Linked DNA regions of Homo sapiens. The protein of the gene in region 2 purifies or fractionates together with the protein of the main gene of each other region. This does not show direct contact. Each region holds a gene or a part of one and is shown on either strand. Other genes may lie near its edges.

Region 1 (7,026 bases), on a different chromosome or scaffold from region 2:
AAGTTTTTCATCCTATATAGGTAATATTTTGTTTGTTTACTCAGATGACCTATTCCACCATATTACTATAAATATGGAATTAGTATAAGTTGTTGGAAGTTAATAAAATAATTCAGAAATATTAGCAAGGAAAAAATTCCAACTGTAAAGAGAAAGGCAAAGGAAGATGAGCCAGCAGTGACTGAGAAGAATGGTCAGAGAAGTGGGAGGAAAACTGAATAATGTTTTTATTTTTTTTTGTAAGCGAGAGGAGAGAGATTTAAGAAGGTGGTCAATTTATTGGTTCTTCTGTGTTCTCAGTACAAATCTTGCTCTTTCCTACTTTTTAATCAATGCTTTTGTCTCCTCCTTTTTCACCCCTCTATACCCAAAGGAAAAAATTCACCATGTGAGCAGTTATTTGTTAACTTGCCCGTGTGTTCTTCTAGATTATTAAATGAAGAGGGCAGAGACCTTGATTCATAATGATCACTCACATAATAAACATTTGAATTGCATCATTCTTTTTTTTTTTTTTTTTTTTTTTCATTTTGAGACGGAGTCTCACTTTGTCACCCAGGCTGGAGTGTAGTAGCATGATCTTAGCTCAGTGCAACCTCCGCCTTCCGGGTTCAAGTGATTCTCCTGCCTCAGCCTCCCAAGTGGCTGGGATTACAGGTGCCCACCACCACGGCCGGCTAATTTTTGTATTTTCAGTAGCGATGGTGTATCACCATGTTGGCCAGGATGGTCTGAAACTCCTGATCTCAGATGGTGAGGAGGGCCTTTCAAAGTGCTGGTATTACAGGCGTGAGCCACCACGCTTGGCCTGAATTGCATCATTCTTACATAGACTTTTTAAAAGGCACGCTTAAAAACACATTCCTAACATTTCTTAACTTCTGAAACCAATCCTGAATATAAATTCTCTTTCTTGGCTAGGGAGATCTTGTGCGAAAACTCAAAGAAGATAAAGCACCCCAAGTAGACGTAGACAAAGCAGTGGCTGAGCTCAAAGCCCGCAAGAGGGTTCTGGAAGCAAAGGTGAGTCCTGGGATGCTAAAATAGGAACATAAGTAGGTATAGGATTGTTCATCTTTAATTTCTTTGGATGGGAGAGACCTAGAAAAGTTTCTGAACAAGTATCATTTGGTTTATCTGTTTATCCATAATGCCGCCTTCTCCTTTCCCTCTACCTGGTAGACTCCTCATCCTTTCAAAATGCAACTCAAAATGTCAACTTTTTAATAAAGCCTTCCTGACCCTGCAAATGCTGGACTCAATACGCTATATGAATTTCCATGGAAAGGATTGTGCTCTTCTTTACGACTTCTCTTATGCCTGAAAATAATGATTTTTGTTTGTTTGTTTGTTTTAAGGAAAAGGTCTGTTTATTTGATACCTGCTCCCAGACCTTTCAAACAATAGATCTCCCATCACCAAACTTAAGTTGTTTTGGGGTTTTAAAGTAACCATTTTGCTATAGCAATCCACTGACAATTCAAATATTGCTTTATATTGCTTATCAGTATCTACATCAAAGTAAACTTAGTCTTGTTTTTTTTTTGAGATGGAGTCTCGCCCTGTTGCCCAGGCTGGAGTGCAATGGTGCGATCTCAGCTCACTGCAACCTCTGCCTCCCGGGTTCAAGTGATTCTCCTGCCTCAGCCTCCCAAGTAGCTGGGATTACAGGTGCCCACCACCAAGCCCAGCTAATTTTTGTATTTTTAGTAGAGACAGTGTTTTGCCATGTTGGCCAGGCTGGGCTTGAACTCCTGACCTCAGGTGATCCACCCACTTCGGCCTCCCAAAGTACTGGGATTACAGGTGTGAGCCACCGCACCTGGTCAAGCTTAGTCTTGTAATCTTGGAAATGATCATATATTTTCCTAAATGATTAAGTAAAGATATCTTTTATATTACTCAAAGGGAAAAAAAGACCTATGGCTTCTATTGTTTTTAACCTATCAAAATCTTGTCTGTTTGATAAATTTTATATTTAATTCTGGTGAGGAATAAACTAAATTCAGATATATAAGTTCAGATTCCCACCCACCCCTCCACTCACTCACTTTTTATTTAATCTCTAACAGGAGCTGGCGTTACAGCCCAAAGATGATATTGTAGACCGAGCAAAAATGGAAGATACCCTGAAGAGGAGGTTTTTCTATGATCAAGCTTTTGCTATTTATGGAGGTAAGGGATTAATGACAAAAAGAACTATTGTGTTGTTAGTGGCTCTAATATTATACTTAAATCAAGAACATGGCTTGCCTGTTGGTATCCACTTGTATCAGGCCACAAAGCAGAGGATGGATGTTTTGCTTTTGTTTGCTTGGAGTCACCATTTGGTGTGATACCTGTTATTTTTCTCCACTGCATTTATTCCTGGACAGCACTTTTTTTGATTAGGATGTAGGGAATTGTTGGAGGCCCATGTATGTATTTGATGTGTCTGTGTACTCATGTACTCTTTTTAAAATGCAATGGAGACTGAAGAGTAACAGAGGGCCATTGTAGTACTGGCTAACTATACTATGCCCCTTCACACAGGGGCAGTGATAAAACAGTCCTTAGATTATTCTTTATGGTCATCTGCCAGGAGAAAACATTCTTCCCAGGGATGTAGATAAATCACTGTGAATGCCATATGAAGGTATATAGGCAAATACAATTCACTGATGAAATGTAAAACTATATTTTTCATAGTCAACGGATTATTACAACAACATTAGACATATAGTACTTTGCCACTGAAAGTTGACTTGAGTTTGGCTAAGTGGATCTGTAAATGTTTACCCTTTTGAGGTTAAATAGTGCCTCAAATACCCAGGAAAAAATTAGAGAATTGGATGCTAAAATTATAGATCATTGTTATCAGATGTGGTGAGAAATTATTTTGTAATTTTTACGGCAGAAAACTGTAATCTGCTTTTTCATTCTGTTCTCTAAGGGGGAACTTTTGTTGTAGATTTTGGGCTAGTCCTACTTGAAATTACAAATATAGAATTAGTAAATGGCGTAAGAGCTTTTTTATTTTACTTCCATCAGCTAGCTGAAAGTAAGGTTCTTCAGTATTGAGGGATTTGCATTGTTGACTTGAATACACTTTTAGGGAGTATAGGTATCAGTTTCTCATGTCTCCTTGCCTTCATTTGTTCAGAGTAACAAGGTAAAGTATGTGTTTTCCTCTCATATTCTATAGGTGTTAGTGGTCTGTATGACTTTGGGCCAGTTGGCTGTGCTTTGAAGAACAATATTATTCAGACCTGGAGGCAGCACTTTATCCAAGAGGAACAGATCCTGGAGATCGATTGCACCATGCTCACCCCTGAGCCAGTTTTAAAGTGAGATCTTACTTTGGAGTGGGGGTATCCTACTTTAAATAAAATAACTTATTAAATTATTTAATATACTTATCTAAATAACTTCCTGATTATAAAGAACTACTCATTTCATGTAGAAAATCTGAAAAATATGGAAAAGCAAAGAAATGTATACCTTCTGCTCACAGATAGCTATGTTAAGATGATTGTGTTTGTCCTTCCTGTTTTTTCTGTACGTCCCTATGTATTTCAGTGTTAGCAGTACACTGCTTATTTTCATGTAATATTGATGAACATATACTCATATCATTAACTATTCATCTAAAGCATTTTTAATGATAGCATAGTATTCTGTTTTATGGAAGTGCCATAATATGTTAGTTTGTGCCATATTGAAAGCATTAAAGTGTTTCTCATTTTTGACTGCACCGAATATCTTGATAGATGGATTTTTGGGTATATCCTTGATTATTTCCTTAATACAAGTTCTGAGCAAAGGTATACTTGTAGAGATTTTCAGTTAAATACTATTTGTTTTAAAGTTTCAATGCAGAAACTTAGATTATTCCTACCAACGTTATTGAAAGTAGGGCAGAATTTCCTTTTTTTGTGTGTGTGAGATGGAGTCTTGCTCTGTCGCCCAAGCTGGAATGCAGTGGCTTGATCTCGGCTCACTGCAAGCTCTGCCTCCCAGGTTCACGCCATTCTCCTGCCTCAGCCTCCCAAGTAGCTGGGACTACAGGCACCCACCACCACGTCTGGCTAATTTTTTTTTTGTATTTTTAGTACAGACGGGGTTTCACCATGTTAGCCAGGGTGGTCTCGATCTCCTGACCTCGTGATCCGCCCGCCTCGGCCTCCCAAAGTAGGGCAGAATTTCAGAATGTGAAACTGAAAGGAATTCTTTTATTTATTTATTTATTTTTTGAGATGGAGTCTCGCTCTGTCCCCCAGGCTGGAGTGCAGTGGGGCGATCTCTGCTCACTGCAAGCTCCGCCTCTCGGGTTCACGCCATTCTCTTGCCTCAGCCTCCAGAGCAGCTGGGACTACAGGCACCTGCCACCGTGCCTGGCTAATTTTTTTGTATTTTTAGTAGAGACGGGGTTTCACCATGGTCTCGATCTCCTGACCTCGTGATCCGCCTGCCTCGGCCTCCCAAAGTGCTGGGATTACAGGCGTGAGCCACTGCGCCCGGCCTGAAAGAGGAATTCTTGCCATTTTGTAACTCGTCATTATTCATTTAAGGTTGACTGGTGGAGAGCTAATTTTTACTATTGGCATCCGTTAGGTTCTCTTAATAATTTCAGCCAATGAAGAGGAGGAATTCTGAATGATGGCTCTATAAGATCAGGACTACCTATCATTTTAGCTACTTGTTCCACCAATAGGAACTTTGTAGAGATAATACCAATGTCAGTACAGGTTTCAGTGGCAGAAAACACTTCCCTTAAGGTTCAATGTCTATACTGAGCTGCCATGAATTCTTAACTAGTCAAATTCCCAGTGATTTTGGCCTTTGCTTAGATCACTAATAATAATGGCATAGGCATGGATTAATTGATCCTGAAGAATAGTACAGACTTTATGACAACTTGTAGAAAAGAATTGTCTTTTTATTGTCTAGTTAATGTCTTCTTTCTTATGGGAAGGAAGAATGTGGGAGAGGGTGAGAAATAGATTTGAGGAAGAATTTTCTCTGGCATCCATTACTGTCATGGATACATCATTACTATAGATATGGGAGCTTCCATCTTTGAGATGGATATAAATATTGATGGGGAATTATCTTATAAGGTAATATCTATGTGTAATTTGTATGAGAATGACAAATTGGGTTGGCATTTGTTAATTTAGGACCTCTGGCCATGTAGACAAATTTGCTGACTTCATGGTGAAAGACGTAAAAAATGGAGAATGTTTTCGTGCTGACCATCTATTAAAAGGTGAGGTTCTTCATCTCCTTCAGGTAGGATTGATCAAAATAAAAGGTTTAAACTTTCTCTCAGATGTCTTTCATTAAATTTTTTATTGAGGCATAACATTCAAAGAGCAAAGTGCACAGATCTTAAGTATATAGATCAAGTCCTTTATTTTTTAAAAAAGTTATATGTAGATAATTAGTTATATACAGATAATTTTTCTAATTAGCAAATGAATCAAGACAATACCATGACTGCTGTTGTAAAATCAACTGTGGGATTCATGTAAATTAAGAACTTTATGCTTGGATTTACTTTTTAATTGTCTAGCATTGAAACTGAAAAGTGCATTGTCCTTTTTCCCATTGATTGATATATGTCAACACTGTTCTTACAGCTCATTTACAGAAATTGATGTCTGATAAGAAGTGTTCTGTCGAAAAGAAATCAGAAATGGAAAGTGTTTTGGCCCAGGTGAGTACTCTAGAGATGTTATCAGAGTAACCTAGGTGGTCGCTGTCCTTCTTTCAGTGTTTAATGACTGTTGCATTTCCCATTATGCTGACCCTGGCCACATTGTAATGAAGCAGAGGTTAATTCTGTCCTGTATAGCGTCTCTTTTTTTGCATTTTTATTTTCTTCTCTCTTTTGTGACTAACCCTTTATTTCAGCCCAAACTAACAAGTCCGTGTTAATAGGCATTCAATTTGTCTGACCTTGGAAACTACTTTTCTGGATTTAATAGCTAAAACCACAGGAGTGACTGATGATGGGTAGTGTTCAGCACTGGTGTGGAGACTTCGGGGCAGATAACTTGATGAGCACTTTCTCACTGGCTACTTGATCTGCCTCTGCTTGGACCCTGATTTCATGCTATTATTCTTAGAACCTCATGAGCAGGTCCTGACTTTTCTGTCCTTGCTTTTCTCAGTTTGCCTATAGGCCTAAAGTTTTATAATTTGTATAATATTTAAGCTGACAAATTTTAGAGAAGACAAAAAAGAGACCACAGAGATAATTTATTCTGACCTTTTACCAATTGCAGGAATACTTTCTATATTAGAAGTAGTTCTTATCCTTTTGTTGGGTCACAGACCACCCTAAGAATGTGATCAAAACTGCACGTCTCCCTGGGAAGATGCATGTGCTCATGTATATATGTTGCTGGTGTCTCACCTCATCTGTTGGCTATTCCGTTTAGGCAAAGTACATTTCTCCAACACCATGTTTAGTCATGAGGTCTACTGAGGCTCACCTCTTAAATTTTATTTACTTCCTTGGGCAAAAAACAAAAAACCAATACTGTGATTATACCTATTTTCTTTACACCGATCTCTCTCTCTCTCTCTGCCTGAATATAGAACTCCCTAATATGTTGTTTTTCATGGGAATTACTGGATACTTTTCCACTGTTGTCCTAATTTTTTTTTTAGCATGCTTTTTTTCTCTGTGATAGTTAACTTTCCAACATAGCTAAAATAATTTCTCCTTCTTCATTTACATTGAAAACTTTCTTAATTTGGCTGTTGAATCATCTGCTGATTTATTTTGATACTTGTGGAGTGTAATTTTATCCCTTGCTTGAAGCTCATTGTTTTAGTAATTACTCATGGTTTAGAAAATTATTTCTTACATTTTGATACTGTTGAAGCCACACGTTCATCTCATTTTCTTATCCAAAGGCATGCCCTTTATTAGAAAAAATGGAAAATGCCTCTAAGTATCCCTAAAATTTTCCATTCAGAATTTTAGATTTACTGAGGTTTTGTGTATATGTTTTTGATCTTAACAGTATTATTCAT
Region 2 (7,300 bases):
CAAAACATTACCACGCGATTTAATATGTTGCTTCCCAAATTTACTGGACCAGAGGATCTTTTTTCCTAACACTTATTAACATCCCAATACAAGCTGGTAAACATATCAATTTTATCAGTATATCTGATTGAAAAAAAGCACATCAGAATCTTCAATCCTCATTCTTCTGCTTCAACAATGCACAACGTTGAAATAAAATAATCTTTTAGGCAAATTTAACTAGGGCCGGGTAAGGTGGCTCACTCCTGTAATCCCAGCACTTTGGGAGGCTGTGGTAGGTGGATTACCTGAGGTCAGCAGACCAGTCTGGTCAACATGGTGAAACCCCACCTCTACCAAAAATGCAAAAATTAGCCAGGTGTGGTGGTACACCCCTGTAATCCCAGCTACTCGGGAGGTTGAACCCCGGAGACAGAGGCTGCAGTGAGCCAAGATCATGCCGCTGCACTCCAGCCTGGGCGACAGAGAGAGGCCCCGTCACAAAAAAAAAAAAAAAAAAAGAAAAAAGAAAGAAAGAAAAGAAAGAAGAGAAAGAAAGAAAGAGAGAGAAAGAAGAAAGAAAGAAAAAGAAAGAAAGAAAGAAAAGAAAAGAAAGAAGGAAAGAAAGAGAAAAACTTAACTAGATAGCAAGTAATCAGAAAGTAAGCTTCCAGATTTTCCCATCTAGTCTAATTTTCACTCCATTTCTCTGCTCAGGAATTTTAGTTCAATGACTAAGATGTGGGAGGAAAATAATGACACTCATCTTCTTATCTTTCAGAATTTACATTAGAGAGAAAATAAATTCTGAACCCTATCCCTAGAATCAGGCAAAACCGTGGTATGACTTAAAAGCAGGACCTCAGAAATGCCTCAAATATTCACTTTTTATTTCTTCAATACCTGTTTCCTCAGCCGTAAAACTCTATGGAATGGAGACACAAACTATGTGAAAACTCCCAACATTTAGTCTCCACCCTAAAGGTATCTCCCTTATCTGAACCTGATTTCCATATCTGATTTATTTATTTATATTTATTTATCATTTTTGAGATGGAGTTTTGCTCTTTTTTACCCAGGCTGGATTACAATGGCGCGATCCCGGCTCACTGCAACCTCCACCTCCTGGGTTCAAGCAATTCTCCTGCCTCAGCCTCCCGAGTAGCTGGGATTACAGGCGCGTACCACCACGCCCAGCTAATTTTGTATTTTTAGTAGACATGGAGTTTCACCACGTTGGCCAGGCTAGTCTTGAACTCCTGAGCTCAGGTGATCCACCTGCCTCGGCCTCCCAAAGTGCTGAGATTATAGGCGGGAGCCACCACGCCCAGCGCTGATTTATTTATTTATTTATTTTTTTTTCAGTAAGTACTTTGACTACGTTTTTTTCTTGGAACATGATGAAATGACCTGCAACCAGAATGTTGAGTACTTGATGAGGCACACCCCTCATCATTCAGGAACAGTTAACTACCAAATGAAGCACACTGGAGATTGACCAGTTTGCAAATTCACTACTTCACAGCTCCAAACTAAATGCAAAACCATTCTACTAAGTAGACACTGCAAAAGTCTGATTCTGAAGTCAGCTCTACTCTAATAATTTCAGTAAGCTATTTATAGGTGTTTCTGTTTTTATGTGGGTTTTTTTTTAATCTACTCTAAATTTAAACCTGCTCCTCATTTTCAGAAGCTGAAATGAGCATAAAGTTAAATACAGGAAATATATACACTAACGAGTACAATCCACCTCCTGTTCAGTTCCTTCGTGTAAAAGGCTGCAAATAAGAAGTCTCCCAGAGAGTTTTCAATTCTCTTACAATGGTACTTCCCTTTAAAAAAAAAAAAAAAAAGTGTACTTTCTTCCAGGGATAAAGTCGGTTGTAAATTTCAATAAGAAAGGTAAGAATACAATTATTTTTACTGGCAATAGCCAAATTAACACCAATTTTAGAAGATATCAGTCATGTCAGACACGATTCTCAAAGTCTCTTTCACTAACACTTAGGTCATAATAAACGACTCTCAAAACATGGAATAAAAGGGCCTAACCTTAATTTTTTAAGGCTCTAGGAAAGATATTTGCTCAACTTTCCATAGCTAGTATTTTTAATGGATGCACATGCAAGGGATAAATGATATTTTTCATAGTTGGTATTCTAAAGGGGTATACATCCAAGGTATAACTGATATTTTTCAGAGCTGGCATTTTTAATGGGTGCACACGCAAATGATAAATTATGTATAACCTATCGCCACAGACATTTGAAGGCCTCTTCCACCAGAGGATCAGGTCTAAGCCCATGAACCAAGTTATTGATTAGCAATGGTTTCTGTTGAGACAAGGGATGGCAGGAAGTATCACGTTTAATGGCACTACCGTGGCTCTAGCTAGGGTCTGTTTTCTATTGGGCCTCCCCAGAAACAAGTAAAATATTTTTTTAAAGATTTTTAGAAAAATGCAAGGTAAGTTCAAGAGACCTCGCCCGAGGTTCCACAGGTTTCCTCACTCACCTGGTGGGCCCTTTTGAAGGCAACCCCCTCCACACCTCAATTCCCTCAGCTCTCTCCTCCTTTTTCAATAAAGGCGTTTCTCTCCCCTTTCGGTTCCTTCTCCGCGCCAAGGCGCCCGCTAGCCCCCGGCAAAGGGGGCCCGCCTTCCTCTCAGGTGCCTTTCTCCCGGCCGCCACCCCCTCTCCCGCCCGTGGATGCCGGCCCCCGCCCCCGCAGCCACCACTGGGCGCCCCTTGCCCATCACCCAGACTTCGCACCCTCCACACTCCCGCTTCCGCCCGTCGCCTTGGGCCTTAGCGGCACCCGCACCGCACCCCAGCGCCACCCGGCAACACGCCCCCCGCTCCCGGCCCCCTTACCACACATGATGCCGGAGACACGGCCCGCGAGGCCAGGGGCGAGTGGCTGGCGGGATCGGGGGTGCACACACGAGCTTCGGTGGGCAATCTGCGGGCTCGGGGGCCGGGGTGGCGCCGACACGACTCCCTCGGGGATGCGACGGCCAAGGCAACGACAGCCTTCTCCGCCTCCCGGGCTCCGCCAGCAACCGCCGCCGGGCCCCGCCCCTCGGCGCGCAGCGCGCCGCCGCCCGTAGGCTCCATTGAACCGCTCACGCGCCGCTCACGCGCAAGTCCCGCCTCCCAGCGCTGCCCCGCCCCCCGAGCCCACGCAGGCGCTGGACTGCTGGCGGCGGCGACGTGGCAGTGGCTCGTGGCCGCGTCCGCCTGGAGTTCCTGGAGACGCCCGCCCCGGGGCGAGCCGCGGGAGGGACCGAGCCGAGAGGGAGGGAGAAACTCAGCACCTGGCAGGGAATGACGGAAAGAGAAGGATGGAATTGTTAGCAAAGCAATAGCCCGGGTGCGTGCCCCGTGCAGCCCCAGGCCCCAGGCGCCAGCACTGCACGAAGCGAGGAAAGAGGAGGAAAAAAGCAGGAAGTATGAAAAGGGAATCCTGGGGAACATAAGGCTGAAAAAAATTGCAAAGAATTAGGTTGAGGTGGGAGGAGAGAGATAACAAAATTCTTGACTGTAAAGCCCCAAAGGTCAGCCTCTCTGGTAATAAGCAATTCAATTCCTTGTGTAATATGCTTGGCCCCTAAAAGCCCTCCGCATCCGTTGCCTCCATAACCCTCAGTTTATTGTGGAGGGGTAGAGGAGGAATGTAAGGCTCAACTATCCGACTATGAGCCTGGACGTAAGAAACTGCTGGCCCACCTCCTCCCATGACCCACCTGAGACGGCTAGGAATTCCCTAGCTTTAACAGCCGCGCGTTTGACTTACGAACGATTCATTCTATGAATTAATGCGCCATGTCTGACAAGAGAGACTTGATTAGAGAGGGATGATGTTTCTGAGAATTTATTACCTGGGCATTTGCTTTAAACAGCCTTAAATGGTATCTTTAGTCAAATGTGGAGTAATCAGAACTCTATAATGGCTCTAGAGTAGAGTAGTATCAAAAACGTACATGGCACACAGAATTCCTGGAGTGCTGACTGCTGTTCATGTGTCTGGTCTTAGCCTGCTGACTGCTGTTCATGTGTCTGGTCTTAGCCGTCCTTCCAGCCCTATACACTCCCAACAGGCTCAACAGGTAGTTCCTCAACTGGGCCAAGATTCTCAAATCTTTTGCACACTTTGGTTACTCTGCATAGAATCCCCACCACGTCTCTGTTTAGATGCTACCTCTTCAGGAAAGCCTTTTTTATCCCCCCTAGACAGACTTGGAGACATGCATTAACCTCTTACTCTTTGAGCTACTCACTGTAAAGAAATATTCTTTGATATTTTATGATTTTCTGTATTTTCCCACTGGGCTGTAAGTTTCTTGAAGCTAGAACTAGATTTTACATACCCAACACTTTTAGACCACAGCACAAAGTAAAAGATCAAATTTATTTTGGAATGAGTGAAAAAAAGTCCTATTTTCTTAGCGGAATTAACCTTCTATGGCTGGTTATATGATTAAGTGAGCATAAGGCTTTCAGTTCTTCTTACGGGGAAAAGTGCCTTTTTTCACTTGCCTCAGAGAAGCTGAAAAATGTCACATTTAACTAAGCAGAGTATTTCTCACCTAAAAGCCCTTTTGATATTTCAATCCCTTAAACAGGTCCCTGGATCACCCAGAGCAAAGTTTAAAAAAAAAAAAAACAGTGAGCTTTTTGGTAATAATACATTTCTTAATTCAAGAAACAAAAGACTGTGGATATACATCTAGCCTCAGAACCCTCATCTAAGGCTCTGGTTAGAACTCCGTTGTATTACCTAAAAGCCAAGGTATGGTTCCAATGCTTAAGCAACATCTTTGTGCACTGGCAGCAAACCTGTCAATGCCACAAAGAAAATGTCAGCAGTACTACCAGAGTTCTCATGCTCCAACTATAGTAATCTATTTAACCCTTTGCTTTCTTCTTCTGCCTGCTACTCCACCACAATGACTATCAATTTGTCTTATCCATCTCCACTCAACAAACTATTTTGGAAGATATTTATGAATCAGTTGAGAAGAAGAAACTAGTGTTACAGGTCTTTTAGAATTTGTCTAAATACAAATTTTTAAAAGTTTTCAGTAAAGACTGGAAAGTCCCCAACTCAGAAAAAAAAAAAAAAGTTAAAAAAAAAGTAAATAAAAAAATAATTTGACAAAAAAGAGAAGAAACTTTGAAGGACAGTATTTTCCCAAATCAGCCTTGAAGAACCTCACTAACCCAACACAACAAAGAACTCTTTGTAACCATGCGCCAGTTAAGATACACACTTTGGGTGCCTGACCTCCCTTTATACAGAGCTCCGCCTTAACTGGACCTTTGGGAATAAGGCCTGAAGGAGAAGAAAATAAATGATCTATGAAGGGAAGGGGACATCTGGGTCTAATTCAAACAAATGAGGGAATGGATTTTCTCTCCTGATCAAAACATTCTGAACGACAACAAAAAAAGTAATGATGGCAAGGGGGTGTCATTCACCATCTCTTTATGTAAGTCCATTTCCCTGTTCGTAGATTCAGTCCCATTGGATCTGATGGCTGAAGGCCATCAGAGCTTCCAGTTGCCATTACTAACGCAACGAAGAACCTTAATTGAAATAGCTGTAGTCATTTTTATTAACCCTTATGTGAATTCCAGTAATAGCAATAAAATTATTAAAATAAAAATTCCTTTGCATAAGAATATGGGGAGCTGGGGTACATATGTCCTACTTTTTAGGGAGCTTTGTGGAGAAATGTACCCCAGTGGACAGAGAAGATGGTAGCAAGTATCAAAGGAAAAAGAAATAGGTTGAGCCCCTGAGGCCTGTGAAAAGAAATGAGGACAAGAACAAAAGGCACCAATCAAGGCCTCAGAAAGACCCTTTGAGTGAACCCCTTTAGCCTCCCGCAGTTCATCCCACACACTTTGGCTCCAGAGGGACCTGTCAAAAATACAAATGTGATCCAGTTTTTCCTTGCTTCCAATATCGTGGTTACTCTTCACCCACAGGATGAGTACTAGATTTCCCAATTCAGTGGCAGCACTCCCACAGAAAGAGCTTTCACAGAGCTCTTCAAGGATGCAGCTCTCACAAATTTATTTCTCACAGTCATGGTGAAAGATGTGCCTAGAGGGCAGAGCTTTCACTGACAAATAATAAATAGAAGACCACTCAAACTAAAGAAGGGGATTTACTAGCTCACGTAATTGGAAAGAACAGGAATACAAACAGCTTTCAGCACATTTATACCCAGGGACAGAATGTTGTCAGAACTCTTGAACTACCTCTCTGACCTCATGGACAGGGAAATAATCCTCAAATAGCTCTGTAATCACAACTTTATAGCTTGCAGCCCAAAATGAGAGAGGCTATTCCTCCATCCTTACTTTTTATATTCTAGACAAGGATTCTGGCCAGTCCAGCGTGAGTCACATGCCCCACTCCTGTGGCAAAGAAGGCAAGACATTGTGATAGGACAGCTCCACCAAAGCCCTATAGAGTCATATAGCCACATACGGCAAGAGGAAGCAGTTCTTCAAAGGAAAGGGGAAGGTGTTGCTAAAAGAAGAACACCAAGAAGGCACACAAAAAAATATGTCCACCGCATCAAGCAAATATGACCTGATTGCCCCCCAGAAAACCTGAGGCTTGAGGACAAAGGATGCTAACTCCAACTAGAAGCTATGCCCTCCCCAATACTCCTCTCCAACGTGGCTCCAAATTTTTCCAGTAGGCAGAAGCTGGGGCAGAGTTTTCTAGCTCTGCGAGAAAGAAACTCTTTCTACTGCCAAGAAAGTCAACAAATTGAAAACCATGAGATAAACTGGTCCTACCTTTAACCTACTATTTCTGTCCTGTTGGATGTGAACAGAGCCACAATAAGGGGTGGACCATTCAGGGAGCTGCCTAGAACTGAAAGATCACTTGAAACGTAAGGACACAGAAAAAGTACTATTTTTCTAGGGTTTCTTTCAAGGGATACTTGAAAAGTTGCTTCTGTGTATCTTGTAAGCTCCTAGGGAATAATCACAGATAACACTGATATGGCAAAATGGAGTATATGGCTGGGATTTCCCAAGAGGGGTGTAGATTCCCTCTGGACTGGAAAGCAACTAGTTTCATATTCCTGCATAAAAAAATGGACACACATGTACATACCACTGCTTTTGTCTACTGTGGTTCTAGACTCTTGCCCACTCGTAAGTAGCTATGAAAGCAAGGAAAGCTTCTCTCCTCCCTCAAGTAGGAATACTCAAGAGGGGTATGAGCCCAACTTCCTTAAGGCAGAATAGTATAGCTATAATGTGCATAGGCCCTGCAGCCAGAATGCCAGAGT

The links. The genes of interacting proteins can lie anywhere in the genome.
Region 1: the proteins of GFPT1 (region 2) and GARS1 fractionate together in Homo sapiens (co-fractionation; 3 studies listed by BioGRID, with this or other methods). This does not show direct contact.

Annotation. Positions count from the first base shown.
Region 1 is NC_000007.14:30,597,875-30,604,900, forward strand, and holds part of GARS1 (glycine--tRNA ligase isoform 1 precursor), read left to right. Parts: intron 1-921; coding exon 922-1,023; intron 1,024-2,072; coding exon 2,073-2,175; intron 2,176-3,184; coding exon 3,185-3,326; intron 3,327-5,159; coding exon 5,160-5,248; intron 5,249-5,621; coding exon 5,622-5,698; intron 5,699-7,026. UniProt on the Homo sapiens protein: Catalyzes the ATP-dependent ligation of glycine to the 3'-end of its cognate tRNA, via the formation of an aminoacyl-adenylate intermediate (Gly-AMP).
Region 2 is NC_000002.12:69,384,213-69,391,512, forward strand, and holds the start of GFPT1 (glutamine--fructose-6-phosphate aminotransferase [isomerizing] 1), read right to left. Parts: upstream 3,016-7,300; 5' UTR 2,860-3,015; coding exon 2,853-2,859; intron 1-2,852.